Linked DNA regions of Homo sapiens. The protein of the gene in region 3 interacts with the protein of the main gene of each other region in a biochemical or structural test. Each region holds a gene or a part of one and is shown on either strand. Other genes may lie near its edges. The genes, in order: COL18A1, ANOS1, KDR, BTRC and PDCL3.

Region 1 (6,557 bases), on a different chromosome or scaffold from region 3:
CCAGTTATACTCCGTGTACTTCCTGATCCTGTCCATCATCTACTTCTTGGGGGCCATGCTGGATGGCCTGCGGCACTGCCAGCGGGGCCACCACCCGCGGCAGCCCCCGGCCCAGGGCCTGAGGAGTGCCGCGGAGGAGAAGGCAGCACAGGCACTGAGCGTGCAGGACAAGGGCCTCGGAGGCCTGCAGCCAGCCCAGAGCCCGCCGCTTTCCCCAGAAGACAGCCTGGGGGCTGTGGGGCCAGCCTCCCTGGAGCAGAGACAGAGCGACCCATACCTGGCCCAGGCCCCGGCCCCGCAGGCAGCTGAATTCCTGAGCCCAGTGACAACCCCTTCCCCCTGCACTCTGTGCTCCGCCCAAGCCTCAGGCCCTGAGGCTGCAGATGAGACTTGTCCCCAGCTGGCTGTCCATCCTCCTGGTGTCAGCAAGCTGGGTTTGCAGTGTCTTCCAAGCGACGGTGTTCAGAATGTGAACCAGTGACTCTCGGGCGCCCCTGTGGTAACTTTGCAGGCGGCCCTCAGTGCATCCCCACGACCCCTGCCTCGAGGGCCGCCTGCCTTAGCAATGGGGGCCTCCGCTTATCCTGCTAGCAGGCCCCCTAGGATTCCCCCTGCCCTGTGCCGCACTCTGGCGGTGGCCACAGCGTGCTGGCGACACTCAGGGCAGCTGCCTGGCCATGCTGTCCCTGCACTGTGCCCCGCGGGCTTTGTTGCTGGAAGAGGTGGGTGGTGGGCTTCTGCGTCCACCAGGCCTCACTGGCTCATGCCCCTTGGGGGGCTTGAGACAAATCCTTTCTGCCCCCCAGGGCTAGTGAAGTGGCCTCTTGGATACCAGCTCAGGGGACACTGGCCCCACAGGAGTTGTGAGCCCTCTAGGGCAGGGTGGGAGCCGGGACCCTCAGGTGTAGCTGAGCTGTGACATTGCTGGTCATCCTTGGTGCTCTTGCTTTTTTGAAAGATGCTTTTTTTTTTTTTAACTGACGTAGAATGAAGAACTGCATGTGGCTTCTCTGTCTCTGTGGAAAAGCCATCTCAGGTTGGCGGCAGACACATTGTCATCAGAGGGGAGCAGCGGCTCTGGTCCTCGGAGCTGGTTCCTCTCTCCCACCCTAAGGGCAGCCCTCCATGGTCCTGTCTGTCCTTCTGAAGTGTGTCCATCCTGACCTGCGGGTCCTCAGCTGCTCCCACACTTGTGCCAGCCCGGAGGGGACTGGTCCCGGTCACCGCGGACGTGCTGGCCTTGGTATGTGCCAGGCTTGCCTGGGCTGGGCAGCCTTGGGGGGGCTGCCTTTGTGGTGGGCGCTGGGGAAGTACGTCCCAGCGGCCTCAGGGTCTAAGGAGCGCTAGTGCCTTGCCCACAGGTGCGGGACCATCTGATGTGATGTGAATACTCTTCCCACATACATTAAACACACTTAAGTGAGTGTGCGCAGGGCTTCTGATTCAGGGCCGGCCTGGCCTGGGGGTTGAGGGTCAGCAGTCAGTGAGGAGGCCAGGAGAGGCGTCCCAGCCTTCTCCCGCCTCCAGCCCACGCAGGGCCTTGGTGCCCATGAGCTGAGCACCCCCACAACCCTAGTCAACGGCCCTATCCTGTGGGGCCTCTGCCACATCTCAGCGGCCCCAGGTGAATGGCTGGCTGCTCAGCACGGAGAGCTGGGGAGAGAATCTCTGGCTGGGGAGGGGCTGCTGGAGCTGCTGGACCCAGGGGTCTCCCGAGGTGGCTCAGGGGAGCAGGCATCTTGGGGTACCCTGGGTTGAGGCAGAGGCTGCACGTGGAAGATGGCCCGAGTCAGTGGATGGTGCCAGTCAGACAGGGCCATGGTCCCAGGTGCATCCAGGGGCTCTGTCATGGCCACCCTGGGGACCCTGCTTGGGGGGGGGTCTGCACCAGCCATTTCCTGGGCTCGTAGATCTAGCAGGATGTGATGGGTGGAGGTGGGCTGGGCCTGTGCCATGGGCTAGAGCGTCACTGGGGAGGCCCACACCGCCATCAGAATCCTCCTCCCAGCGCCTCCCCAACCTGAGGGCCTGCTCCCTCCGCAGCCTGCTCACTGCACCCACTGCCTGCCTGCCTCTGAGTCCTGCACTCACCCGTCCACCAGGACAGGGATGGCTGTCAGGATGTAGTGTTGCTGGGAGCAAGTCAGGTCCTGCTGTGAGGAGAGACCTAAGAGTGTTGGTGTGTGTCCACACACCCGTGCATGCCTGTGTACCTGTGCACACTATGGATGCTCCTGCACACCTGTGTACAACTGCACGCCTGTGTATGGCCATGCATGCATACCCCATGTAACCGTGCGTGCCTGTGCACACTCGGGATCTGCCAGTGGGGCAGTCCAGGGATAAAAGACTCCTGAGAACTCCTTTTGGAGAATTGTGTCCTTCCTGTGACAGTGAAGGCTGCTTGCAAACCAAGAGTCAGTGTAAAAGGTCACTTTTATTTGCCTGTCTGAATTGGCTTCACATCACACACAATTACAGAACCAGCCCCACCGGTTTCGTCGCAGTCCTGAGGCAGGTGCGTGTTGGCTGTGCTGTGGTCAGCCTGGCGCTGCCCTGAGTCCACTTGTCCCTCCACAGAACGAATGACTCGGGTTGATGTTGCCGGATCTCAGGGGTGGCTGTGACTGACAGAGGACCTTGTTGCACCTCGTGGCTGCTTTGTTCACCCGCAGGGCGGCCTGTGGGCACCCCGGGGTTCCCCTTCAGTCCCAAGGAGGGTAAGGATATGGGTTTCCTAGGAGACAGCCAATGACTGCCCTGCATCTGGAGCCAGCCTGTCCATGGGCAGTGCACAGATGACAGCCCTCCCTCACTGCCCTGTGTGCTGGCTACCGCATGTCCTGTGCCAGCCTCAGCCTCTTTGATGTGGCCGTGTTCCATCCTGGCGCTCAGCTGGACAAGTGCTGGCTGAGCCACGTCCCAGCCAGGGGCATGAGATGGGGGCCCTGGATGGGAGGCTGCCAGACCCCAACTCATGGGTCCCTTGAATCTCCCAGCTTGGACTCGGCCAGGGTGGAGCTGTCTGCTTTGGATGTATCATCTCATGGCTCATTTGGGAGGCCAGCCCCAGGCTGCTGTGCTTGGTGTTGGAGGACAGGCCGGAGCTGGGGGTCACAGTGCGCCTCTGAGCTTGGGAACCTGCTTCAGCCTGGGGTTGCTGTGGAGAATGGCCCAGAGCTGAGCAGAAGGGGCTCCCCCTAGCCCCAGGGACCTGAGCCTCCCTCCCATCTACCGCAGGGCGAGCACACACCCTGGAGGAGCCCAGATGGCCTTGTGCTGAGTGTGGCCTCAGCTCCCATTGCCTCACGGGGCCTGTCTGCTAACAGGTCTGGGTTTTGTGCACAGAACGGTGCTGCTAGGTGGGAGATGAAGTCAGCACCTGCTGGGGCGAGCACGGCTTCCCAAAGCAGGAAATCCTGGAGAAATCGAGCCGTGGTCTGATCAGGCCAAGAGGTTGCACAGGGCATGATACTGCACCCTGCCTGACCCAGCTGGGCTCACAGGTCAGGGGAGAGTTGGGGCAGGTGAATGTCAGCATCAGGCTTCTGTTTTAAACTTTTAAAAAAATACACTCTTTGGCTTCCTTTTATTTCTTGAGGATTACATGAAACGTGAACTATACAGGAAAGTATGGCAGCCAGGTCCTGGGGCCAGGGGCTGGCCGGCCGCTCCCTGCCCACGGTGGGGGCTTCCTCCGAGCCGCCGGTCCTCTCCGGCCATCCGCATCCAGGCGGTGGCTACTTGGAGGCAGTCATGAAGCTGTTCTCAATGCAGAGCACGATGTAGGCGTGATGGCAGCTCGCGGCACTCTGCCCCAGGAGCCTGCCCCCCAGCAGCGAGGAGGCCTGGCCCGTGGCCGAGGGAGCCTCCGTCCGCCACGTCTCACAGTAGCTCTCGGTCAGCCTGCGCCCGTTGGGGTCCGAGCCATGCCACACGCTCTTCTGGGGCCTGTAAGACGCGCCGGGCCGTCAGTCAAACCCAGACCTGCTCTGCTTAGGGCAGAGGCCGCTCCCCGGGCAGGAAAGGTGGAGGCAGGAGGCCAGCCCTGGGGTTACCAGGGGGCTGCAGAGGCTCCCACAACCTGGAGGGCCACATGGCCTCCCTGCTGGCTGCCTGTGGAGGGGGCTGCATCTCCCAGACTGCCCCCCATGCTGCTTCTGCCAGACACACCCACGGCAGAGGGGAGAGGGGCCAGGGCTTGGCCTGGCTGGGTGAACCTGGCCCTCATGCCTGCTGAGCAGAGGCTTCCTGTGGCTGCCTCGCTAGGAACCAGCTCCGCCTCCCGGGCTCCTGGCTTTCAGGCCTTCCCTGGGGCCCAGCCCTGCCCACAGCACTCCTGTCAGAGACCCTTGGCAGGTGCATCTCCGTTACAGCAGATGGCCAGGCACTGCTGGGGACACGCTGTGTGGCACCCCGAGACACCCCTAAATGCATGAGTGTTGGAAGAATCGCGGCGCTCACGTGGGGAGGGCACAGCGACATTTGGGACGAAGCGTTCTTCTAGATACCCTGGAAATTTCTGTCAACATTTTAAGGGCACACATGCTCGGACTCCGTGTTGCCCTTTGAGGAGTTTATTCTCGGTGAATAAACTCGCTGCGCTGCTTACATGGCTGACCACAGGCTTGGTGACATCCGGGAGACATGGAGTCTATCCGCCATGAGCAGAGGGCCGGGGGCACCTTCGGGGCCTTCTTACAACTACCTGGCTCTCAAACGCATTGCTAATGATGACTTCTCAGAGCAGTTCTCATTTTTCTCAATGCTCTTTTGGATTTTGTAATTTTAAAGTAATGAGCATGTATAAGATTTGTCCAAAAACTCGGGGGGAAACTGCAGATAGGAGCCCGCCCGCCCGCCTTCCCTGGCTGGGGCTCTCAGAGCTGCTCACACGGCACTGGGAACCTACCAGGTGGGGTGCCTCAGGACGTCCTTGCCGTCAAAGGAGAAGATGCGTGCCCCGGGCTTCAGCGGACCCTCAGAGCCTGAGAACAGAGCCTCCCAGCTGGGAAACAGCAGCTCGTCCTGGAAGAGAAACCGTGTGTATGTGTGTGTGGTGTGTGGGGGTGTGGATGGGTGTGGGTGTTTGTGGGGGGGTGTGTGGATGTGGGGTGTGGATGTGTGGGGGGGGGGTGTGTTGTGTGTGTGGGGTGTGGGGGGTGTTTGGGGGTGTATGTGGGGTGTTGTGGGTGTGTGTTTTTTTGGGGGGTGGGGTTCTGCAGCCCCTGGGCATGTCCTGCCAGGGAACAAGCGTGGGGGAGCCAGGCCTGGCCAGGCAGCCTCTGCAGACCCCAAGAGGCCTTGGCTAAGGCAGGGGACCCTGTCCCCTAACGCCAGGCCACAGCCGCCTGCTCCCAGCCCTGGGTCTCTGACCCCTCTGCTGTTGGTTCTGGGGAATGTGGGTGCTCCCCGGGGCACCCAGAAGCCACAGCCCAGTGCACGAAAAGGGGCCACAGAATAAAGCCACATGGGTGCTGTGGCAGAGGGGCCACCAGCCCGCATGGCACTAGAGGCCCAAAGGACGGTTCCTGATTCCAGGCTTGTATGTGAGCCCTATCACCTGTGTGGACACTTGGTCCAGCAGCATGGGACCCTCTGAGGGGCACTGCCGGGGGAGCGGGGGGTCAGGGGGCCACGGGGGGGCCTCATGGGATGCCCTGGGGGACGTGGCAGTGCCCAGGGATGCAGAGGCCTGGCCTGAGCCTGGAGGGGTGTGACCCACCCGGAGCCTGCCCTGAAGTCGCCAGCCTAGGCGCCAGTGTCTGTAACATGGTGGCCTCCAGAGGCCCTAGAGGGGAGCTCCCCGCTGGGAGTTCACCCCAGAGGTCAAGTGGGGGCCGAGGAGCCCGCGCCCTCAGGACTGGACTGACCCACCTTGAGGTTGACGATGGGCACGGCTGCGCGGTCGGCACGGCGCACGATGCTGTACAGGTCCTGCAGGCGCGAGGACAGGAAGGCGCGGAAGGTGCCCGCCAGCCCCACGGCCCGCGCCTGCTGGAAGCACTGGAAGTCGGCCCCGCGGATGCCCCGCATGCCGCCTGACAGGGGGCTGTTGAGCGCAACCAGGTGGAGCTGCGGGGAGAGGGGCGCGTCACGGGCTGTGTCCCACGCTGCCCCCTGCACCCAGGCCCCGGGCGCACCACCCCGGCCCCGCACCTGTGTGGACAGGCACGGCCGAGGGGCGCTGAGCGGGAGGCGCGCAAGTGACACACTGAGGGGCCCAGGCAGCAGCCCCCATACGCTGCCAGGTCAGAGCAGCCCCGGGCCACGTGGGTGCCCCCAGCTGCCGCTGTAGGCGGAGGTACGCCGGTTCCTCAAGGATGTGACAGCGGCTGGACTTTCATGACCACTGCTTGGCCACCAGAGGGCAAGTCCCAGGGCCAGCCAAGCCGCCCTGAGTGGCCCTGAGCCGCCAGACCCCCACCCATGGCCGAAGCCTGGGACCCCCAGCAGCTCTGCAGGGGCTGGGCCCTCTTCTGCTGCCGAGAGCCGAGGGGCTAGATGGAGCCAAGCCCACTTTGGGGGGGCACTCACCACCGGCTGGAAGTCGCGGT
Region 2 (6,557 bases), on a different chromosome or scaffold from region 3:
GTTGTTGACTTTGAAGCTGGTGGAAGGGCACCACCAGCCAAAGAATTCCAGAAGCCTCTAGAAACCTGAAAAGTCATGAAAATACATTCTTCCCTGGAGCCTCCAGAAAGGAGTACAGGCCTGCCTTGATTTTAGACCAGTGACACCCATTTCAGACCTCCAGAAGAGAAGACATTTATATTGTTTTAAGCATCTACACTCAAGGTAATTTGTCACAGCAGCTGTAGAAAACCAGTACATGAACTGATTTAAAACACACCAAACCTATTGCATTGGCTGAATTAGTATCCTTATTCTCAGATACAGGGAATGAGGCTCACTGAGGCTGTTGGAGTTGCTTGCTGAAGCCCACCTTCCTCGAAGGTTATGTGTGGGGTCAAAATTCTGCATCCTACAGCCAGAAAGAAAAGTGTGAATGCAAGGAGCAGTTGAGGTGCAGAAATCAACATGGTAGCTACAGCAAAGTTGAGTTTGGAAAGCCTCCACATGGGAGAGGAAGGAGGGAGCATCAGCTCTTCAAGGGACTAGCTCAGGTGAAAGTAGACATTTGGGAGCTGTCAGCAGAAAAATTTTTCAAACCATGGGAATCAATGAAGTGATTCATGGAGGTGACACAGAGAGAAGATGAAAGTGCAGTGAACTCAGACATGGCGAGATTTAGGGCTAACAAAAGGGAGGGAACCCAAAAGGAGTGCCCCATGTGTCACTCTTGATGCTGCCTCCTATGAAAATATAATTGCATTGTAAAATATGTAAAGGATTTTTAGGATATGGAGGATCCCCAGGGCAGCCAAGCCTCCTTGTATTGCTGTAATGTAGCCACCCCAAGTCCCCTGACTGCTCTTCACCAAAGACCTTCAGTCATCCGTCATGCTCCGTTCTCATGTCAGCACTTTGGCACGTGCTGTGTATTCCCTGCTGGTAGAGCATTTAAGCTGCCCAATATTGTAACCATGGCCATCTTCAGCTGTTTAAATTTAAATTAATTAAAATGAAACAGAATAAAGAATTAAATTCCTCTGTTAAACAGAGGACATGTGAAATGCTTTATAGGCACAGGTGACTAGTGTTTACCACAGACAGAACATTTCCATCACACCCGCCAGTTCTGTTGGACAGGACTGGCTGAGAACACCCTCCCACAGGTCTCTGCAGTGCCACTACCCACTGCTACACCTTCTTCAAGTCCTGACTCAGAATTGAACACACGCCAGCCGCCTTATATAAAATCAGCACTTTTTGTCAATCCACCCTACTGCCCTTACCTTCTGGTTTTTTTTTTGTTTTATTTTTTTGTTTTTTTGTTTTTGGGGGGGGGGTGGTGGGAGACGGAGTTTTGCTCTTGTTGCCCAGGCTGGAGTGCAGTGGCGTGATCTCGGCTCACTGAAACATCCGCCTTCCGGTTTCAAGAGATTCTCTGGCCTCAGCCTCCCGAGTAGCTGGGATTACAGGCGCCTGCCACCACGCCTGGCTAATTTTTGTATTGTTAGTAGAGAGGGGGTTTCACCATGTTGGCCAGGCTGGTCTCAAACTCCTGACCTAGTGATCTGCCTGCCTCGGCCTCCCAAAGTGCTGGGATTACAGGCGTGAACCACCGTGCCCAGCCACCTTCTGTATTTATATGTGGACTTACTACGTTCTAACATAATATCTATCTTATCTATGTATTGTATTTATTCTCTGTTATTATTGGCCCCATTACTATGTAAAATTCAGGAGGGCAGCAGCCACTCCTGTGTGATTATTTCATTGCTGTTGAATGGAAGAACATGAACACACTCAGTGATTGACTTCAGCGTTGTGCATAGCCTATAATTCTTTTTTTAAAAAATAAACTCTTGATGTCTGCTATGTAAAAATTAAAACCTCTAGTACATGATTTCTCTTTTAGCTAAATGCCCGGAGTGCCCACTTTTATATCTGTTTGCTTTCTCGGATTTAAAGTTCTTCTTTTCTGGTTCCAAAGTGCTCAAAGCGAAGTTCCCACTAGATCAACCCAATTTCATCAAAGAGTTTTCTCCTCTGAAAACTCCCATCAAACACTTGGCATGATGTTGGGGGACAAGATGTTAAATCACCTGCAAAATGGTGCCATTTGGTGCCATTTCACACTCCTCGGACACACTGGGGTGATTAATAAACCCGAGACTGTCAAGGTCTGCTTTCCCACACTCATTGAGTTGCTTGCCGCTATTTTATCTTTTTTCCCCCCACTTTATTGTCCAAAGTAAAGAAATGTACAGAAAATATTCCTCTTGCCCTGGGAATAAACGTGTTCAAAGGGTCAGTCTTCTGGCCTGTGTTTGAGAACACCAAGTCATATTTCAGTAGGGATCAGCCATACAGAAATGCCACGATGCGCTTGGTTAAGGGAGAGTGGGAAGCATACGTCCCTATCCTTTGGACAAAAGAACTTCTTTATGGCAATACATAACAGGAAATAAACGTGGATAGCCAATTCTGCAAGTGTGAAGGGAATGTTTTTGTTCTTGTGTGGATTCAATAGTATCTCATCTTTATCAAAAAAAAAGGTAGGATTGAGAAACTTCTGATGATTCTCTTTTGCAACAGGAATTACGAGAGCTGTTGCTAGGTGTTGCCTTTCATTGTAGGGCTTTGCTTACTGTAAAAACCATGGCTAGGTTATTCTCAAGACATCTTTGGAATCATTTTGCTATGAATTTACTAATTTTTTTTTCTACTTAGTGCTTGCACTTCAACACAGGTTTTCCCTTGGCAGTATATTACTTTTTTCCCTTACTTTGTTCTTAATGATTAAGTATTCAGAATTACTAATTATTATAATTATTAAGTAATCAGAATCTCACCTCCTTTGGCTCACTGTGCATTTATTGGTCACCTGTAGAGTTTCATTTCCTCTCCTTTTCTCCTCTCAAGTTCAAGAACCCCAGGCTACCTGGAATGTAACATCCAGCCTATTATTTTTGTTTGCGTGTTTTGGCATTATAGATCCCACTGTCAACCGATATCATGTGCGGTGGTTTCCTGAAGCGTGTGCCCACAACAGAACAACCGGATCAGAGGCATCATCTGGCATGACCCACGTAAGGACATGATCTCTAGGCCAACTTGATCTGTGAACATAATTAGACAGGAGGATGTACAAACTAGACAGGTCAAACAGATAACTCATTCCCACAAATCAGCTATGGAGTAATGACTTGATGGAAGTGGAAAGCAGAATGGTCATTATATTCACTCATTCTTTTATCCATTCACACCATTGCACTGGGAGCTTACTCTGTTATCCACATGGAGCAAAACCTAAAGTGCAGAGACTAAAGACACAGTTCTTAAAGAACTCCCATATTTCAGGGGGAAATATGTCTGAGTATGTGTGTGCTTCATCTTAACTGGACAAAAGCTTTGAATTATTTTCTGAATTTTGACATGTCACCGTGATCTAAAGGTGTAATGGTACAAGTGGATTTCTATGTGACTCTATCATTGAGCACCATGTCCCTAACTGCCATCAGCTCAGTTAGTGAAATAATCTCCCTGTCCTGTATAGCATGCACCAATATTTTGACTTTCAACTTTAAGAGAACATTAAACTCTCTGAGGATAGCAACTCTGTCAATATTGCCCAAAATGTTATTCCAAATATTTTGGGGTTCATTCATGAATTATAGATTAGAATCAACAAACTAACACAAAATATTTAAGAGGTCATTTTATTATACAGTGTATAATACACTTTGATGGCAGTTTATATGTGATACCTCAGGACAGTTTAAAAAATCCAAAAACATGGCCCCAAACATAGAATGTTTTGGTTTGTGATATGTAACTAGAATATTTTTGTTTTGAACATTTTCTAAAGCAAGCACGATATTTTAAGAACCATACCTGCTGGCATAATTTTAAGAGAGTGAGATAAAACAAGTCACTGGATTTTCAGAAATACACAGATTCTTTTTCTTTTTTACTGGACTTAATTTGTCTCATGTTCAGCAATGTTTCTCCTTGTATTTATCCTTAAATTAGCTCCAATGTTTGTGACCTTCAGTAAAATAATTAAACAGACATTCTAAATAAGGAAGTCGATTTGAAAAGCAGAGAAAGCAATAAACAGAAGCTGGAATTATTAATATTTTTGTGGGCAGAGGGGTGAGGTTTTTGTTTTACTTATATGTGTGTGCCTCAGAACCTTACAGAACTGGGCTTATGTCAATGCAATTCCCCAATCCTAGGCTTATCATCTTTAGGAACTCTGAAAGTGGTAACAACTATTTGCTGAGCAGATGTAATGTATCTGGTAGAAATAAAAATCAAACTCCTGAAAAATTATCCTTCTAGGGGTTTAGAACTTATCTGTATTTAGTTTTAAACCTTTAGATCCAATTATTATAATTTGTTTTTATGCTACAATGGAGCATCCACTAATTCACTTACTGCTGCAGATGTCTGTCTCCTATGCAATATGAAAACAATCTTGAAATATCTGTGAAACAGGATCCTTAATAGCTAACCTTGGATTCCAGTATAGTCCCATGTAAAGAGCAGATTTATTTCCAAAGAAAAGCAATTCAGACTCCCAAAGAAACATGGTGGCCTTGGCTTGGGCTTGGGTTGGGCTTGGGTTGGTCTTGCGTTGTCCAGATTGATTTGTTTCCTATTCACTGTTTGTGCTAACTGGCTGCAGAGTTGGGTGCACCCCATCTCCTGTCACCATCTGGATGAAGGGCCAGCACACCTGGAGGTCACTCCCGGTCTCTTTTGAACATTCAGTGCTCTGTCACCTGCAGCCACTTCCACTCCTCACTTAAGTAAATCACTCAAGCCTCAGTTTTGATTTTAATTCTTGTCTCATGTTTTTCCCGTCAACGCTGCTGCTTTCTAGCAAGATCCCCTACCCATCATCCAATGAGTGCCAGAGATATTCCATCTGTACTTTTTTTCCTCTCTTAAAAAATAATTAAACACACACACACACACACACACACACACACACACACGTAAAAACCATGGAGTCTCACTATGTTGACCAAGCTGGTCACAAACTCCTGAGTTCAAGCGATCCTCCCACCTCAGCCTCTCGAGTAGCTAGGACTATGACACGAGTCACCATGCCCAGCTATCCATCTGCACTTTTATACATATACATTAAGAATTGGTAAATACAAAACAGAATGGATAAGTGCCATTTAGCCAAATATGAAAGAAACAGAGATACACACCTGTTATCACAGGAAATGTCATCTTTTGACATTATCATAAAGTTATATTCTTAGCCCGTGACTCCTTACCATTTAGCCTCTTTCTTTTATTTATATTTAATCACAACATTATGGCAGAAAACAGTAACAGCACTCCAAAAAAGGGAAAAATTATATTGCTAAAGAATATCATCATTTTTTAACAGAAAAACTTACATATAAACTAATTCTATGTCTCAGAGAAGCCTGCGTTAGTTTTTTTTAACTGAAAAAAGTTAGATTTGTATTTACAGCTTTACACCACTACCTGCACTGCTACCAACTCAAAAATGCTGATTGCGACCTTAGAAGTAGCCTGCTTTGATGAGGAATTATTATGATACTGTTTAATTCTAGAAGGCATATCCCGCAGCCATGGGAGTGTTTCACAATTGTCATTAATCAAAATGTGGACAGTATGTGCTTTGTACTTTTTATAAAAGCCATATTGCACACACTATATAGGAAAACATCCTTGTTGGATGGAATATGATTTCAATTCTTGCCAGTGTTTTTTAATCCCTAATGAGATTTATTGCTAGCATAATTCTCTTTCTCTTGCTCTAGGAAAATTACATAATTCTTCAAGATCTGTCATTTTCCTGCAAGTATAAGGTGACTGTCCAACCAATACGGCCAAAAAGTCACTCCAAGGCAGAAGCTGTTTTCTTCACTACTCCACCATGCTCTGCTCTTAAGGGGAAGAGCCACAAGCCTGTTGGCTGCCTGGGCGAAGCAGGTACGTTTTCACCTGAAGGACTTCTACATCTAGGTCTACGGTGTCAGCAGCGCTTTGCAAACCTTGTCAAACTGCGTTTCACAAGACCGTGAAAACCAAAAGTGCCTCTCTTTCTAAGTTGTGTTATGATGGCCCAATGTGGAGGGAAGAGATGTAGGAATGAATGTGTTATTTTAAAGCCTAACAGGCTTGGAAAGATGTCCTTTGATAGTAATGTTATCCCTTTGGAAATGAAGGCAAACATTTAGATACCGCTTGTGTTTTGGGAAAGTTTGATATAATTATTTCATTATTTTCCCACCCCTTTGCTGCGTGGGTTATACTCACACACTTTCCATGCCAACCTGGCAAACCTCACATCTGTACCTTCCATCCCATCTCCTTGCCAATGTCCCTGTCTTGCAGTGGGAAAAAGTCTTTTAAATGCCCTGGATTTGGCCAGGCATGGCGGCTCATGCCTGAAATCCCAGTACTTTGAGAGGCTGAGATGAGAGAATCACTTGAGCCCTGGAGTTCCAGACCAACATGGGCAACATAGCAAGATCTCACCTTTTAAAAAAAAAAAAAAAAAAAAAAAAAAAAGCTTCGGATTTAATAAC
Region 3 (5,672 bases):
TTGGTCAATTTTTATGAGAATTCATGAATACTAGGGAATTTCTGTGTATATTTACTGTGGTCAGTAATGGCTAAATGAAAAAGGTGATTGGATGTGATCCGTAAAGCTGTCAATATGATTACAATCTTTGTGGACTCTGAAGAATTTTTAAGTCTGTATACAAATGGGTGCATCTGTGCTTAAGAAGTATGATATATAAATAAGCCAATATCTATTTGTTTGAGACATTTAAATATTATTGTCTGAATTCGAAGTATTTCATTGTGAGAAAAGTATTAAAATTAGTTTTAAATATAATCTCCCTTCTATGGCTCAGTAGGAATTTGTAGGTGTCTTGAATACGTGTACGTTCTCTTAACATAACAAATCAATGAAAATCTATATTTATAAGAATAATAGAATAAGTGTAGTTATGTATTTGCTGGAGTTTATTTGCTAGAGTATTCTTACCTAAAGGTAAGAATAGAGGAGGTTTTGATCTGCTTATAATCTTTTATATAAAATGGGAATACTCATGGGTTTTTGAATAATGCTCATACCAAAAAGAAAACAAACAAAAAAAACCCCAACATATTAAAAGGTGCCATTGTGCTATTTTATTGTTTTCTTTAAGGCCCAAGGTAAGAAATTGTGAAAGTCAATGATATGTTTCATTCATTGATTCAAAAAATGTTTATTCGGCAAGTATCATGTGCAGAGCACCATGCCATTGCTTGAGACACCTACATTAGTTTTGTTGGGGTTGAATTGAAAGAAAAAATTGTATTTCTCATTATTTGAAGTAACTTTTAAACTATGTATAAACACGAGTTACTAAAATTCCCTTTTGCAGTTTTAACATGAAGAAGTTGGGGAAAACACCTATTACCGGGAAAAAACACCTTAGAATGGCTTGTGAAAGTGTAAATCCTGAAGTTTTAGATCAACACAGCCTGCATTTCTAGGCTTTGACATGATTACCGTCTGTCAGGATTCCATGCCATTGAAAACATTTTCTAGTTGCTGCTGAGTGACAGGGGTTCTCAGTCCTTCCAAGGAATGTGGTTTTGATGAGTAAAAAGCAGCGTTTGATATGTCTGGCTTGACTGCACACATGCTTCAAGTTATTAAAGTTTAAAGTTGCTCAAGAGCTTTATTACAACCATACACATGCCCCGTAATTCCCAAATTGCCACAATAGGAAAAGCACAAGTGAAATTTAAGAACATCCCAATTTCCTTGAATATCATGCAAGTGGCCCTTTGGCGCCTGTCACTGTATACAAATTTGTCAATCTGCGAGGCCATAAACATGTTCCATCAGTTGGGGCCTTTGCATAACTCGAGAGAACTGCCTTTCATCTCATTTGAGGCTTGAAAGACTTGGACCTGAGTAAGAGGACTTATCTGCAACTACTAATTCATGCGAGTACCTGAAAATAGACCTTGTCCCTGTAAACCTGCTATGCTGATTAACAACTGGGAGAGATACGGGGCTGCGGTCTCCAGGGAGATGGCAGCCATATGGAGTTGGGAATGGGGTGAGGGTAAAAAGCAAAAGAATTGTCTTCTCTCTGCCAACTCCTTTGTTTGCCATTTCTTCTGCAGTGGAATGGTGCCCAGCAAAAGCAGGGAGTCTGTGGCATCTGAAGGCTCAAACCAGACAAGCGGCTACCAGTCCGGATATCACTCCGATGACACAGACACCACCGTGTACTCCAGTGAGGAAGCAGAACTTTTAAAGCTGATAGAGATTGGAGTGCAAACCGGTAGCACAGCCCAGATTCTCCAGCCTGACTCGGGGACCACACTGAGCTCTCCTCCTGTTTAAAAGGAAGCATCCACACCCCCAACTCCTGGACATCACATGAGAGGTGCTGCTCAGATTTTCAAGTGTTGTTCTTTCCACCAGCAGGAAGTAGCCGCATTTGATTTTCATTTCGACAACAGAAAAAGGACCTCGGACTGCAGGGAGCCAGTCTTCTAGGCATATCCTGGAAGAGGCTTGTGACCCAAGAATGTGTCTGTGTCTTCTCCCAGTGTTGACCTGATCCTCTTTTTCATTCATTTAAAAAGCATTTATCATGCCCCCTGCTGCGGGTCTCACCATGGGTTTAGAACAAAGACGTTCAAGAAATGGCCCCATCCTCAAAGAAGTAGCAGTACCTGGGGAGCTGACACTTCTGTAAAACTAGAAGATAAACCAGGCAATGTAAGTGTTCGAGGTGTTGAAGATGGGAAGGATTTGCAGGGCTGAGTCTATCCAAGAGGCTTTGTTTAGGACGTGGGTCCCAAGCCAAGCCTTAAGTGTGGAATTCGGATTGATAGAAAGGAAGACTAACGTTACCTTGCTTTGGAGAGTACTGGAGCCTGCAAATGCATTGTGTTTGCTCTGGTGGAGGTGGGCATGGGGTCTGTTCTGAAATGTAAAGGGTTCAGACGGGGTTTCTGGTTTTAGAAGGTTGCGTGTTCTTCGAGTTGGGCTAAAGTAGAGTTCGTTGTGCTGTTTCTGACTCCTAATGAGAGTTCCTTCCAGACCGTTACGTGTCTCCTGGCCAAGCCCCAGGAAGGAAATGATGCAGCTCTGGCTCCTTGTCTCCCAGGCTGATCCTTTATTCAGAATACCACAAAGAAAGGACATTCAGCTCAAGGCTCCCTGCCGTGTTGAAGAGTTCTGACTGCACAAACCAGCTTCTGGTTTCTTCTGGAATGAATACCCTCATATCTGTCCTGATGTGATATGTCTGAGACTGAATGCGGGAGGTTCAATGTGAAGCTGTGTGTGGTGTCAAAGTTTCAGGAAGGATTTTACCCTTTTGTTCTTCCCCCTGTCCCCAACCCACTCTCACCCCGCAACCCATCAGTATTTTAGTTATTTGGCCTCTACTCCAGTAAACCTGATTGGGTTTGTTCACTCTCTGAATGATTATTAGCCAGACTTCAAAATTATTTTATAGCCCAAATTATAACATCTATTGTATTATTTAGACTTTTAACATATAGAGCTATTTCTACTGATTTTTGCCCTTGTTCTGTCCTTTTTTTCAAAAAAGAAAATGTGTTTTTTGTTTGGTACCATAGTGTGAAATGCTGGGAACAATGACTATAAGACATGCTATGGCACATATATTTATAGTCTGTTTATGTAGAAACAAATGTAATATATTAAAGCCTTATATATAATGAACTTTGTACTATTCACATTTTGTATCAGTATTATGTAGCATAACAAAGGTCATAATGCTTTCAGCAATTGATGTCATTTTATTAAAGAACATTGAAAAACTTGAAGGAATCCCTTTGCAAGGTTGCATTACTGTACCCATCATTTCTAAAATGGAAGAGGGGGTGGCTGGGCACAGTGGCCGACACCTAAAAACCCAGCACTTTGGGGGGCCAAGGTGGGAGGATCGCTTGAGCCCAGGAGTTCAAGACCAGTCTGGCCAACATGGTCAGATTCCATCTCAAAGAAAAAAGGTAAAAATAAAATAAAATGGAGAAGAAGGAATCAGACATAATTTCCATGTGGTTGTTTTACATTTTTACTGGTTTTCTTACTCTTCTTATAAGGGATATTTTCATAAACTGATTATATATTTTACAAACCAATAAATGTATTTGTAGTACAAAGTATGAGGGTATAATATCACCACAACTATTTTGAGGATAAGTATGTCTGGTTTAAAGTTTAACTGCTTCTTCCCTCTTCTTCTTCATTACAAAGAATTCACACACACACACACACACACACACACACACACACACACGCCACGCATACACCCCCCAACACCCACACCTCCTCCCAGCCCCCCCACACCCACACATCCAACCCCCCATACTCACACTCACACCCCCTCACAGTCACACCCACCCCCACACACCTACACACCCACCAGCACACACATACCCACACACAGATCCACCCACACACCCACACCCACCCACATACACACACCCCCCCACATGCACACCCCCACACACACCCACCCCCCACACACCCATCCACACACCCACACATCCAACACCCCCGCACTCACCCACACCCCACACACACCCACACACAACCCACCCCCCACAGTCACAACCCCCCTCACATTCCCCCATACACGTCCTACACACCCACCACACACCACCCCCACACATCCACACTCCCACACACATCCCTCCACACACACCCCCCAACACTTTTTCATATTATATTCTAAGCACTTTAGAGATGTTAAAACAGAGATATGTGATTCCTTGGCCCTCCAGTGAACTCCATATCTGTTAGAATAGCCAATCATGAAACTCAGGGGGTGAAAGACCCTGAGACAAGTGATCAGACCCATGGCAGTGCAGGGAGGCATGGACCAGATTTACAGTCTCTAATAATATTCTACTCTATACTTACAGAGTCAGAACATAAGATCCATTATTGCCATTTTGAATGATTACCATCACCCAAATTCAGTAGGTGGAGTTATTTAATAAATTATTGGCCCAAATAAGTGACCTTATTTTTTGTGATTTTTTAATACAAGATTTTGAAATGTTTATCTAGTCAAATATGCCTCTCCCTATTTTTAAAAAATGGCTCCTAGGTTTTAAAAAATTTTATTAGAGAAGGTCTTTCCAATTCTAAACCCCCAATTCTAAATTTTCTTCTTTTATTGCATTTAAATCCATTTGGGATTATTTGCATATATGGAGCAAAGTGAAATAGGAGTCTAACTTTATTCTTTTTTTCAAGCAGATTATCAATCATGGCAGCACTGTTTATTAAATATCCCTGTTTTCCCTGTGGTTGGCAACAACCCTATTGTATCATTGTTCAAAACTAGCACGTCACTGAGACGTTCTGCACAGCTTTGTGATGAAGGGTGGGGCTGTTGCTGTTGTGTGTTCTTGGGGATGGCACTTCCAGATTGGGGATGAGAACATTAGGGTCTCCTGAAAGACACTGGTAAACTGTGGGTCAGGCTGGCCTTGTAGAGAGTTCCTCATCTGTTCCTGTTGTTACAGTCTCTTTCAGTAAATGAATGGAAGAGTCTAGGTTATTTGGGATGGAGAAGACCTTGTAGGAAAACACAGGATTTTCTTCACTTTAAGAAAAAGAGAAGATTTTCTTTTTCATAAGTGGCTCTGGCATTGCTTCCAATGCCAGAAATTTGGATTCAGCTGAAACTTCACACTTTATTAAGAAATGCTTTCAGCACCTCAGGCAGAATGATTAGGAGGTGAGGTTTGGCCTTCTTCCTCTCTTTTCTGTCTTCCATGCCTCTTGTTCTTAGCATTTTTTTTTCTCCTCATTTGCCCCTGTATTGAAGAAAAGTCTGTGGTTTCTAAAAGTGCTTCCTGCAGGGTCTTATTTTCAAAGCTTTCCTTGGAGGCTTTTGGTGTGTTTTAGGTGGGGCTACTGTTTCTCCCTCTGGCTTCTGCCCTCCCTCCTTCTCTCCCTTGATCCACTTCTGTCCTTCTCCCTCCCTTTAAACCCTCGTCTCCTCATCTTCCATTTCTCTCTCCACTCACCTTCTTCTCTGCACCCCCGACCCCAGCAGGAGAGGTGAGAGCTGTGGGGAGGGGGGGGTTTCAGTTCACTACCCCGGATTAGGTTTTCCTATCAATGCACATTCCTTTGTCCTCTTCAACAAAAGGACGAAAAGCAAAAAACCACAACCCACAGCTTTCTAGTTGCTGACTTAACCCAATTTT
Region 4 (6,557 bases), on a different chromosome or scaffold from region 3:
TAACAATGCACTTAACCGCTTTTTTCCTAGGTCTATTTTTTTTTTAAAGTTACTTTTGATGCATTATGTTTGCTAAATCCTTTAGCTTACGGCAAAATTCCTAACAGAGGTTCCCAGCAGTGCTGCTGGTACCCAGAACTCAAGCTATCCTGGACTCCAGCAGTATAATGGCTGTGTCATCAAATCACTAATGCCTCTGGAAATTGAGGGCCCCTACCTGAGTGAAGCTTGCAATTAAAAACTGCAGGGATGGCAGGGGAGGGGCTGGCAAAGAGAGCACAGCTCACCTGTACATGTTTCAAAGGAGATAATACAGACCTGCACTACAGTTACCACTACCTGAAAGGAAGGCTTCATTGCATTCATATCATTCCCCCGTGAGGTGGTTTTTGTAAGGAATGCAAAGTTTACCATAAGGATAAGAAAAGTTTCTGTAATAGATGATCCTCCAAATTAAAATAGAATGTGTAGTTTCTTCAATGTGCGAAAATGTAAACTTACCTCAAGCATTTCTAAATCAAGTTTTCTAGTTCTAGACTGACAGAAATGATGGGGACCTGGTGGTTTATTCTTCTTTAGTTTCAGAACTGTGCCGATATATACAAAATTACTATCTATGACAAAGAACAGAGCAGAGCTGATATTTCAGAGTTCAAAAAAGCATTTGAAATTTTCTACCTGACCGTGGAATCCGATGATCCTGTTATGATCACTCTCTCATCATACTGGAGACAGAGGACTGAACCTGTATGGCCTGTGAGAATTCGCTTGCATTCCAATGTGTTTTTATCCCAGATCTAGGATGGCAAATAAGATCCTTTTGATCAATGTGATGATGGGGTGCTGTGGAGACTTGTTGGTCCTATTACGTGTCTGATCCCCCAAAATAATCAAAGCCCAGAGTAGTGTGGAATGCATTTTCTATAGGTATAGCTAAGCGCGCGCGCGCGCACACGCGCACACACACACACACACACACACACACACACACACACACATATAGCTTCAGTACTAATGCAAACTTTTATCCTTTTCATTAAGGAACAGGGTAGTCTATAATTATGTGATGGCCAAAAGAGTAACAGCCCATTCAGTGCATTTCAAGAAGAGAATTTAACCCTAGGACTACCCGTTTGTATAGTGGGGAAGCTGATGTCTGTCCTTTAAGGAAATGATTTTGGCTTTGGGACTGGAAACAATCTAAAATCTTCACTTACTTTCTAGAAATAATGCTTAGAGTTTATGCTTTAGACTGCGCTATGAATGTGGTCACTCTTGCTCCCTCTGCTACCTTTCTACAACTGAATAGACCTCACCTTGATTGTGTTGTCTCGAAGGCCGCTTACTATTTTCTGATCATCATACTGTAAACAGTAAACTCCTTTGCTTGTTTCACTTCGGCAGTGAATTCTCTGTAAACTATGTCTTCCACATCTCCAATTAGATTCTATTGTCTGAGAAGAAGGAATGGGAAAGAGGCAGTGTTAGGAAACACCTAGAATCAAACTCTTTTTAGGCTTTAATGACAATCAATGGCTCAATGCTTTACTCTATGGGATATACACAACTTAGGGAAAACTAAAAAATGTCTTTAAAAGGCTACTATCTATATTTATAAAATATTCTTCCTTTTGCAAGGTAATTAAAGGTTGTTTCCTAGAACTTCCCTGCCTATAATTTGTTCAATTAAATAATAAATCTGGTGGAAAGAGACTACTCATCAAGAGAAGAAAAGCTACGAACTACGTGAGGTTATACACTCAGTGCTCTTACATATGTGATGGCCATTGCTACTGATTGCTACTGATGAACTTCTAAGGAGGTTCAATTCAGAAGATATTTAAATATGAGCTTATGAGTACAAGTTTACCAGTCACACTGCTATGTATGAAGGGATCAATCTCTTTAACTCTCTCATCTACTTATTAGTAAACCATTTTTTAAAGCTTTAAAATTTTGCCTAGCAATTTATTTTACCTACCCTACTCGCCTGTAAAGAGATTGATTTTCTTTTCCTTTTCTTTTTTTTTGATGGAGTCTCGCTCTGTCGTTCAGGAGGGAGTGCAGTGGTGCGATCTTGGCTCACTGCAACATGTGCCTCCCAGGTTCAAGTGATTCTCCTATCTCAGCCTCCTGAGTAGCTGGAATTACAGGTGTGTGCCACCATGCCTGGCTAATTTTTGTATTTTTAGTAGAGACAGGGGTCTCACCATGTTAGCCAGGCTGGTCTCAAACTCCTGACCTCAGCCTCCAAAAATGCTGGGATTACAGGTGTGAGCCACCATGGCCAGCTAAGAGATTGATTCCCAACTCATGTCAATAAACCTTAATGGGCTTGCTGTAACCATACTGTGACTGAAGAATGCTGATAATTCTGTGCCCTTGGGCAATACCCCAAAATACATAGATTCTTACCTCAATGTCTTGTATAATTTTAGGATAAAGTGCTCTATAAAAAGAGTTGGGAGGAGCATTCCCGTCAGGAGGTTTGTTTTTGAATAAATACTGTCCCCTAAAAAATAACAAATATTTCCCAGTGAAAATCATGACATTATATATTTAAATACATATATATTTTGAGACAGAGTCTCGCTCTGTTGCCCAGGCTGGAGTGCAGCAGTGTGATGTTGGCTCACTGCAACCTCCGCTTCCTGGGTTCAAGTGATTCTCCTGCCTCAGCCTCCTGAGTAGCTGTGATTACAGTCATCTGCCACCATGCTGGCTAATTTTTGTATTTTAGTAGAGATGGGGTTTCACCATGTTGGTCAGGCTGGTCTTGAACTCCTGGCCTCAAATGACCCGCCTGCTTGGCCTCCCAAAGTGCTGGGATTACAGGCGTGAGCCATCACACCCGGCCGACATTATATATTTATAAGGAACTTCATATATTTTGAAAGTGTTTTCACGGTTACCATTCCATATACTCTCCATAGCTGTCTGCGGAGGAGCAAAGGTAAGCCTGATTTCAGGAGTCCCATGTCAAAGAGTAACCTTCTGGGCTCTAAAGAATCTGACCAACACTGATTTGCTTTTGGGTAAAACATGATTATTTCCAGTGTAGAACATCGGAGTACCAAGCCTTTAGGAATATTATAATATCAGTAAACAAATGGAATATGTACAATCAGAATTCATCTATTGCTCTATTAAGACTACTGCTTAGATTCACTGGCCTCATCTTTTGGAAATTTTGTTAGTAATGGTAACTATTACCTTTGAACTAGCACATGCCCTATAGGTTTTTTTTTTTTTCCCTTTTACTGTGTCAGTGGTCCCCAGCATTGTAGACAGCAGCAATGCCTCTGGCATGGAGATCACTTTTGCTAGGTCTTTATTTGTACAGGGTAAGGTGTGGTGGCTGCTCAGTCACCCAGGCTGCTGCTAATCAGTGCAACTATGCTTTGAAAGGAGCAATTCAGTTCATTTCATCAGAAAACAAAAGGATCACAGGTGTGTCCAGCAGCAGCTAGGGAAGAAGAAAAAAAAGAAATGCCTAAGAGCACTGCTATCAAGTCTAAGGCATGAAACTGACTTTCACAGGTGTGTTCCTGGCTGTGTACATACACATGTACTTAACTGCCTTCCCTGATTCCAGTGAGCAACATTTGTTAGTATCTCCTTCCTTATGACAGCACATCTCTGGAATACTCGTATCCCAAGCTAGATCTTTGCTACAAAAAAAAAATCAGTAAATGGCAATCACTTCCTGCTGGGTAAAAAATTTAATTCCTCATCCGGAAGTTAAGAACCCACCAAACACGGTGTGGAAGCTAGTAAACCCCACTATGGGTGTACTAACTGCTGTTCTCACTGGCACCGTGCCTTGCAAAGTGGAGAGAGGCAGAAATGCCTCTGAGTGTAATCCTGGCACCAGAGAAATCATGTTTTCTCTGGGCCAGTCATCCACTCCTCCCTCTATAGCTCCATTACAATATAATTAATTGTTTGGTGTCTCCAGGAGTGTTTCTCCCCTGCCCTCTCCCTGTTATATACCCTGAAAATTAGTTGAGAAAATTTCCTATCAGGAAGGTAGATGGCTCTAACTTCTGTGTTAATACAGAAAAGAAAATCTGAAATAGAGAAGTGAAAATAATACTTATAAAAAGGGGGATTAATGAAACATGATACACCAGCATAAACAAAAGGGGAAACAAGATGCGTTATGAAAGAATTCCAGATTAATGGTACATTTCTCTGTACAATATTATTCTACAAACACTTTGCAGGCAAATAATAGATTTTGAATGTGAAGATTTTAAGTCTGACTCCTGAGCCCACCCACATTCTTAACTACTTTATTGTTTCTCAATGCCCACCATTCCTGAGATTCCTGTCTTCTTTTAATCTCTAGCACTCCAAGACTTTCTTCCTATGCAATGATACTATCTACATTCTAAGGAAAGAGAACTCACATAAGCTTCTGATCTTGTTTTCCACCTCACTGCATTTACCATGTCTTGGTAAAGTATCTGAATTTCTTCAAATCAAAGTGTTACAGAAAGAGGTGGCTAGGTACTGAAAACTGGCTTCTGTCTTTATGTTTTAAGTCAAAACCTTTTATGATGGAAGATCTTTGAAAACAGGGACTACTTCTATGTGAAATGCCTAGTACCTACAAGAATGTGAGTACATGATAAACGTTAAATATTAAATTCAGAATGTTATCATAAAATGTGATCTGCTGATTAAGAAAATTGACTTTTCCCAAGTGGTCTTTTATTATACTTTTAAGAGTTACCATTACTGAGCAGACAGCATATTCAGTATTATTCAAGAGAGAAAACTACAGAGTTCATGTCCCAGGGGAAGACTGTCAAATCCATCTAGATATAAAATACAACATCAAATACCAAGTTAAAACTTAGAGATAAAAGCTTTATTAGAAAACTGTATTTACTTACTATTTTTGGTTAGTAGAAATGGAAGAACCTTTCAAAGCTAGCATATGGGGAAAAGTATAACACAGAAAGACTTTATTGACGTATTAGGCTTGGTAAGACAACTTGAAAGAAGAAAATGAGAAACTGATGGAGTAAATTTTTTTTTAAAAAAGGGAAGAAAACTGACACAGGAATAAAGTCAACATGTAAAAACAGAAGCAGCAACAAGAAAGTCGAGGGAATAATGGAGGAAGTTGACACGGGATGTATAAGTATTTGGAATTTCATGGGTTTATCATGGGATTAAGAGGATAAACATGCCCAAAGACAAGGGGATATAGTCAGAACTCTGAAGGATACTCAAAAGAGCGGGAATGGGTTTCTGTGGATAAAGAGATAGGGGAAAAAAGTGGTAATTAGTGCTGGATCCTGGATTACTTCACCTACCCTTTAGAAAGGCTCAAAAGCCATCTTCTCAATGATTGTTTTTTCTTTGTAACTAACATAAAAGATCTTGCCATTTAGTGCCAATCCCAAGCAAAACTGTGGAGCCTTTTACCTTTGGCATTTTCACATCCATCTGCCAAGAACTGCCCACTTACTTCTTGATCTTTCTGCCTTCAAAAAAGGACTCAGTAAACTCCCAATTTATGATGAAGGTTTACTGTCATTTACAGTCCAAATGGGAACACAATGTATTTTAACAGGTAACAGAACCTTTATAGCTAAAGGAATGAATCTCCTTAACTGAAATTTCAGGAGTTATTTGGAGACGAGATTCTTTTTTTCTGAGGGATACAGAAATCTTCTCAGCTGCCCTAAAATTTTCTCATGTAAGCAACTGCCTGCTGTATCCCCAAGGCTGGTCCCAGCACTCTTAGCAAAATGATGGACCCCGAATACCATATAACTCCATTTTTATTTGCTTTGTTGTACTATTAAAGAGTTTATTTCCAAAGTATGAAGTAGGTTATGAAAGATTTCTATTTTTCTATGTAGCGAAATAAGAATTAAAAAACATATTTGAGAAGTAGTAATAATATTCTTTTGTGTGTGTGTGTGTGTGTGTGTGTATGTGAGAGAGAGAGAGAGAGAGAGAGAGAGAGACAGAGAAAGAGACAGGGTCTTGCTCTGTTGCCCAGGCTGGAGTGCAGTGGCATGACCACAGCTCACTGCAGCCTCAACTTCCCAGACTCAAGCCATCCTCCCACCTTAGCCTCCTGAGTGGCTGGGATTACAGGCATGCGCCACCAGGCCCAGCTAATTTTTTGATTTTTTTGTAGAGATGAGGTCTCAATATGTTGCCCAGCCTGGTATCAAACTCCTGGGCTCAAACGATCCTCTTGCCTTGGCCTCCAAAACTGTTGGGATTACAGGCGTGAGCCACCCCACCCGGCCAACAATATTCTTTGTTACACAGCCTAAAAATTGCCTAGTTTTTTTGTTCCTTTAATTCAATTTGAGAGAAAAATTTAAACAGTCTTCCTAATAGCCAGAATGATAAAAATCTGAGGCATTTGGTATAATATTTATAGGTCATTGTATTTATTATGTGTTAATAAATTTCAAAGATAGAAAAAAAGAAAGAGAGCCAACTACTTTTTCATGAAAATTCAAAGGAAAGCTGGCCCATGAATATTTATCTTTTAAAAGTGTTCTCTACTTTTAACTGTTTTC
Region 5 (3,500 bases), on a different chromosome or scaffold from region 3:
GGTTTATTTATTGGTCTTATGGCAAAAATCTAAGATCAGTTTGCTAAAATTCACAATATTATTTAATTGCAGTCGCTCCTAGATGTTTCAGCTGAAAATTAATTTTTTGAAGGACACACATTTCATTTTATTTTTTGAGACAGAGTTTGGCTCTGTCACACAGGCTGGAGTGCAGTGGCACAGTCTCAGCTCACTGCAACCTCCACTTCCAGGGCTCCTGAGTAGCTGGAACTATAGCCGTTCACCACCACACCCAGCTAGTTTTTGTATTATTTATAGAGACGGGGTTTCACAGGCTGGTCTCAAACTTCTGAGCTCAAGCGATCTGCCTGCCTCAGCCTCCCAAAGTGTTGGGACTACAGGTATGAGTCACCATGCTCAGCCCACACATTTTATTGCCACGCCAAAAAAAAAACCAAAACAAAACAAACAACAACAAAAAAACAAACAGCCCCTCTGGGTGGCGCTTACCTGTACATTTCAATAGCACGTTCATCCTCCTCATTAAACTCGTCTTCATGATCCTCCAGCTCTTCCAAAGTCATATCTTCATATGTTTTCACTGAATTTGGTTACATTGGCAAAAAGCAAAAATTTAAAAAGATGAACGAACATGTATTTTTCTTTTTTCCCCTCTCTTTTCTCCTAAAGATATGCACACAACACCAGATCCTTAGCCTACCTAAACAAAAATTACTTAAGGCACCACACTACATTAGAAGCTGAGAGGCCAGGCATGGTGGCTCACACCTGTAATCCCAATTTATTGACTGACAACATTTTACCCAAGCCCTCAGATCCTCCTCCCCTCTCTTCTCCTATTCCGCCTCACCCTGCCCCGCTTATTTTCCTTTTTTTGGAGACAGAGTTTCACTCTTGTCATCCAGGCTGGAGTGCAATGGTGCGATCTTGACTCACTGAGAACCTCCGCCTCCCAGATTCAAGCAATTCTCCTGCCTCAGCCTCCTGAGTAGCTGGGATTACAGGCGTGTGCCACCACACCCAGCTAATTTTTGTATCATTAATAGAGACAGGGTTTCACCATGTTGGCCAAGCTGGTCTTGAACCTTCTGACCTCAAGTGATCTGCCCATCTCAAAGTGCTGGGATTACAGGAGTGAGCCAGCCGCCCTACTGTTGAACCCTTTGCTGATTAAAATTCCCCAGGCTCAAACCTTTGACTACTTTTCTTCTTTATCCACACCCACTCCCTCGGTGATTGCATCTAATCTCATGGCTTTCAGTGCTATCAATATGCTGACAACTCCCAAAGTATAGGCCTCCAGCCCAGACTTCTCTAATGTAGAGAAAAACATACCCAAGGGCCCTCTTAATGTGGCTATTTGTCTAATAGGGATCTCCAAGTTAATGCATCCCTTGGCTGGGTGCAGTGGCTCACGCCTATAATCCCAGCTCTTTGGGAGGCTGAGGTGGGCGGATCACTAGAGGTCAGGAGTTTGAGACCAGCCTGGCCAACATGGTGAAACCTCATCGCTACAAAAAATTACCTAGGCGTGGTGGCACATGTCTGTAATCCCAGCTACTCGGGAGGCTGACGCAGGAGAATCGCTTGAACCTGGGAGGCGGAGGTTGCAGTGAGCCAAGATTGCGCCACTGCAGTCCAGCCTGGGTAAGAGAGCGAGACTCCATCTCAAAAAAAAAACAAAAAAGAGAAAATGTCACTCTTCTGTTTAAACATCCAAAAGCTTCCTGCCTCATTAGGTGTAAAGGCCAAGGTCCTTACTAGAAGCTTCTGGGTCTGCTGAGGCTGCTCTGAACTCTCTCCCCCAGCGCCTCCAGCTCCTCAGGGATTCCCAGCCATGCCAGGGCCCATATTTCACTCGCTCACGTCACCCCCTTCAGGAATACCCAGATGTCTTCTTCACCTCCTTCAGGTCTCAACAACTCCCTCAGGTCTATTCAAATGTGTTCTTCAGCTCCTTCAGGTCTTTACCCAAATGCCAGCTTCACCTCCTTCAGGTCCATGCAAATGTCATCTCAGTGAGGCCCTCTCTGAGCCTGCTTCTCCTCCAACCCTTTCTAGTCCCTTTTACTGCCTTATTTTCTTTATTGTTTATTGTCTGTCTCCCCCACTTGAATGTTGGTTCTCTGAGGGCAGAGAATTGTCTCTGGCTTATGCATAGCTAAATCCCCAACCCCAGAAAAGCACCTGACAATGATAATCATGCAGTAAGCACTCGCTGGATACTTTCTAATAAATCCTTCTCTAAATTAGCTCTAATGTGTCAACAGAGGACAAAAGTACTAGTCCCTGGGACCAGTGCTTCTCAAACTATGACACGCATCAGAATCCTTTAAGGCACTTGTTTAAAATGCAGATTCCTGGGCCTCATTCCAGAGACTGCTTCAGTAAACACTAGGTGGGTGGGGTTACCAGCACTCCAAGGGACTCCAATTCAGACAGTACAACTGCCTTTGAGAAAACCCCCCTCAGACTCCCACACATTGCAAACATCTTATGCCTCCCCAAATGAAGCAATTTTTAGTTAATATCCTCAATGAAACCACAGAAAATAAAGTATATGCTCAGGAAAATACAAGTACTAAAAACCTTGAACAAATTTCCATGACATTATCAAAGGGAATCACAGACCAGAAAGCAGAAAGAAGTATTTTCTTCAGTGCTCATGTGACATGGACAAGGACTTGTGGGACATATCTGAAGTCCCCTAAGTCTATGGCTCAGGAAGGTGAAGGTGAGAGACGCCCTGTGTTTTGTCTGAGGTCCCACAGACACAGAGTGTCCATGCTGGCACTCCAACCTGTCTCCTGGCAGGGCAGTCAGAGGCTTAGGGAGCCATCTCCTAACCCAGACAGGTGCAGAGGAAAGCGAGTGAACTCACCCACTGACTGCTGGAGGATGCGCTGCTCCTCTTCTGCCTCCTCTTCCAATTCTTTCAGACTTTCCTTGGGGGGTAAGATACCCTTTTTGCGTAAGATGTCATTCCATTCAGTGTCTGCGTTGGGGTCCTAGAAGAGCGGGACCAAGGTTACCATGAGTGCTAAGTCTAGTATGTAGGGTGCCACGTTGGGCAAGGGGCCAAATGGGAAAAGTGACAGGAAGGGAGGAATGCACACCAGTCTGTGAACTATTTCTGAGAAAGTGTCAAAAGATCCATAGCCCCCGTTTTGTTTTTCCTGTCTACCCCTCCCTGAATGGAGGAGCTATTCTTGGGGTAAAAATTAGGATAGGGAGTGCAGATCAGTATCAATACGGATACCAAGGCTCTGACTTGGCATGTGTTCAATATTTTTAATAATGACTGAGAGTGCCGGGCACAGTGGCTCACGCCTGTAATCCCAGCACTTTGGGAGGCTGAGGCAGGCGGATCACGAGGTCAGGAGATAGAGACCATCCTGACTAACACGGTGAAACCCCGTCTCTACTGAAAATACAAAAAATTAGCCGAGCGTGGTGGCGGGCACCTGTAGTCCCAGCTACTTGGGAGGCTGAGGCAGGAGAATGGCATAAACCCGGGA

The links.
Region 1: the proteins of KDR (region 3) and COL18A1 form a complex in vitro, tested with the Homo sapiens proteins (one study listed by BioGRID).
Region 2: the proteins of KDR (region 3) and ANOS1 interact in a biophysical measurement, tested with the Homo sapiens proteins (one study listed by IntAct).
Region 4: the proteins of KDR (region 3) and BTRC form a complex in vitro, tested with the Homo sapiens proteins (2 studies listed by BioGRID, with this or other methods).
Region 5: the proteins of KDR (region 3) and PDCL3 form a complex in vitro, tested with the Homo sapiens proteins (one study listed by BioGRID).

The regions. Positions count from the first base shown.
Region 1 is NC_000021.9:45,509,582-45,516,138, reverse strand, and holds the end of COL18A1 (collagen alpha-1(XVIII) chain isoform 4 preproprotein), read right to left. Parts: coding exon 6,538-6,557; intron 6,076-6,537; coding exon 5,878-6,075; intron 5,029-5,877; coding exon 4,913-5,028; intron 3,952-4,912; coding exon 3,741-3,951; 3' UTR 2,419-3,740; downstream 1-2,418. Other genes in the region: SLC19A1 (reduced folate transporter), read left to right, coding at 1-481. UniProt on the Homo sapiens protein: Probably plays a major role in determining the retinal structure as well as in the closure of the neural tube.
Region 2 is NC_000023.11:8,536,172-8,542,728, reverse strand, and holds part of ANOS1 (anosmin-1 isoform 1 precursor), read left to right. Parts: intron 1-2,970; coding exon 2,971-3,065; intron 3,066-5,786; coding exon 5,787-5,958; intron 5,959-6,557. UniProt on the Homo sapiens protein: Has a dual branch-promoting and guidance activity, which may play an important role in the patterning of mitral and tufted cell collaterals to the olfactory cortex. Chemoattractant for fetal olfactory epithelial cells.
Region 3 is NC_000004.12:55,076,078-55,081,749, reverse strand, and holds the end of KDR (vascular endothelial growth factor receptor 2 precursor), read left to right. Parts: intron 1-1,586; coding exon 1,587-1,809; 3' UTR 1,810-3,269; downstream 3,270-5,672. UniProt on the Homo sapiens protein: Tyrosine-protein kinase that acts as a cell-surface receptor for VEGFA, VEGFC and VEGFD. Plays an essential role in the regulation of angiogenesis, vascular development, vascular permeability, and embryonic hematopoiesis.
Region 4 is NC_000010.11:101,527,192-101,533,748, reverse strand, and holds part of BTRC (F-box/WD repeat-containing protein 1A), read right to left. Parts: intron 2,513-6,557; coding exon 2,416-2,512; intron 1,455-2,415; coding exon 1,317-1,454; intron 798-1,316; coding exon 679-797; intron 1-678. UniProt on the Homo sapiens protein: Substrate recognition component of a SCF (SKP1-CUL1-F-box protein) E3 ubiquitin-protein ligase complex which mediates the ubiquitination and subsequent proteasomal degradation of target proteins. Recognizes and binds to phosphorylated target proteins.
Region 5 is NC_000002.12:100,565,993-100,569,492, reverse strand, and holds part of PDCL3 (phosducin-like protein 3), read right to left. Parts: intron 2,991-3,500; coding exon 2,864-2,990; intron 563-2,863; coding exon 472-562; intron 1-471. UniProt on the Homo sapiens protein: Acts as a chaperone for the angiogenic VEGF receptor KDR/VEGFR2, increasing its abundance by inhibiting its ubiquitination and degradation.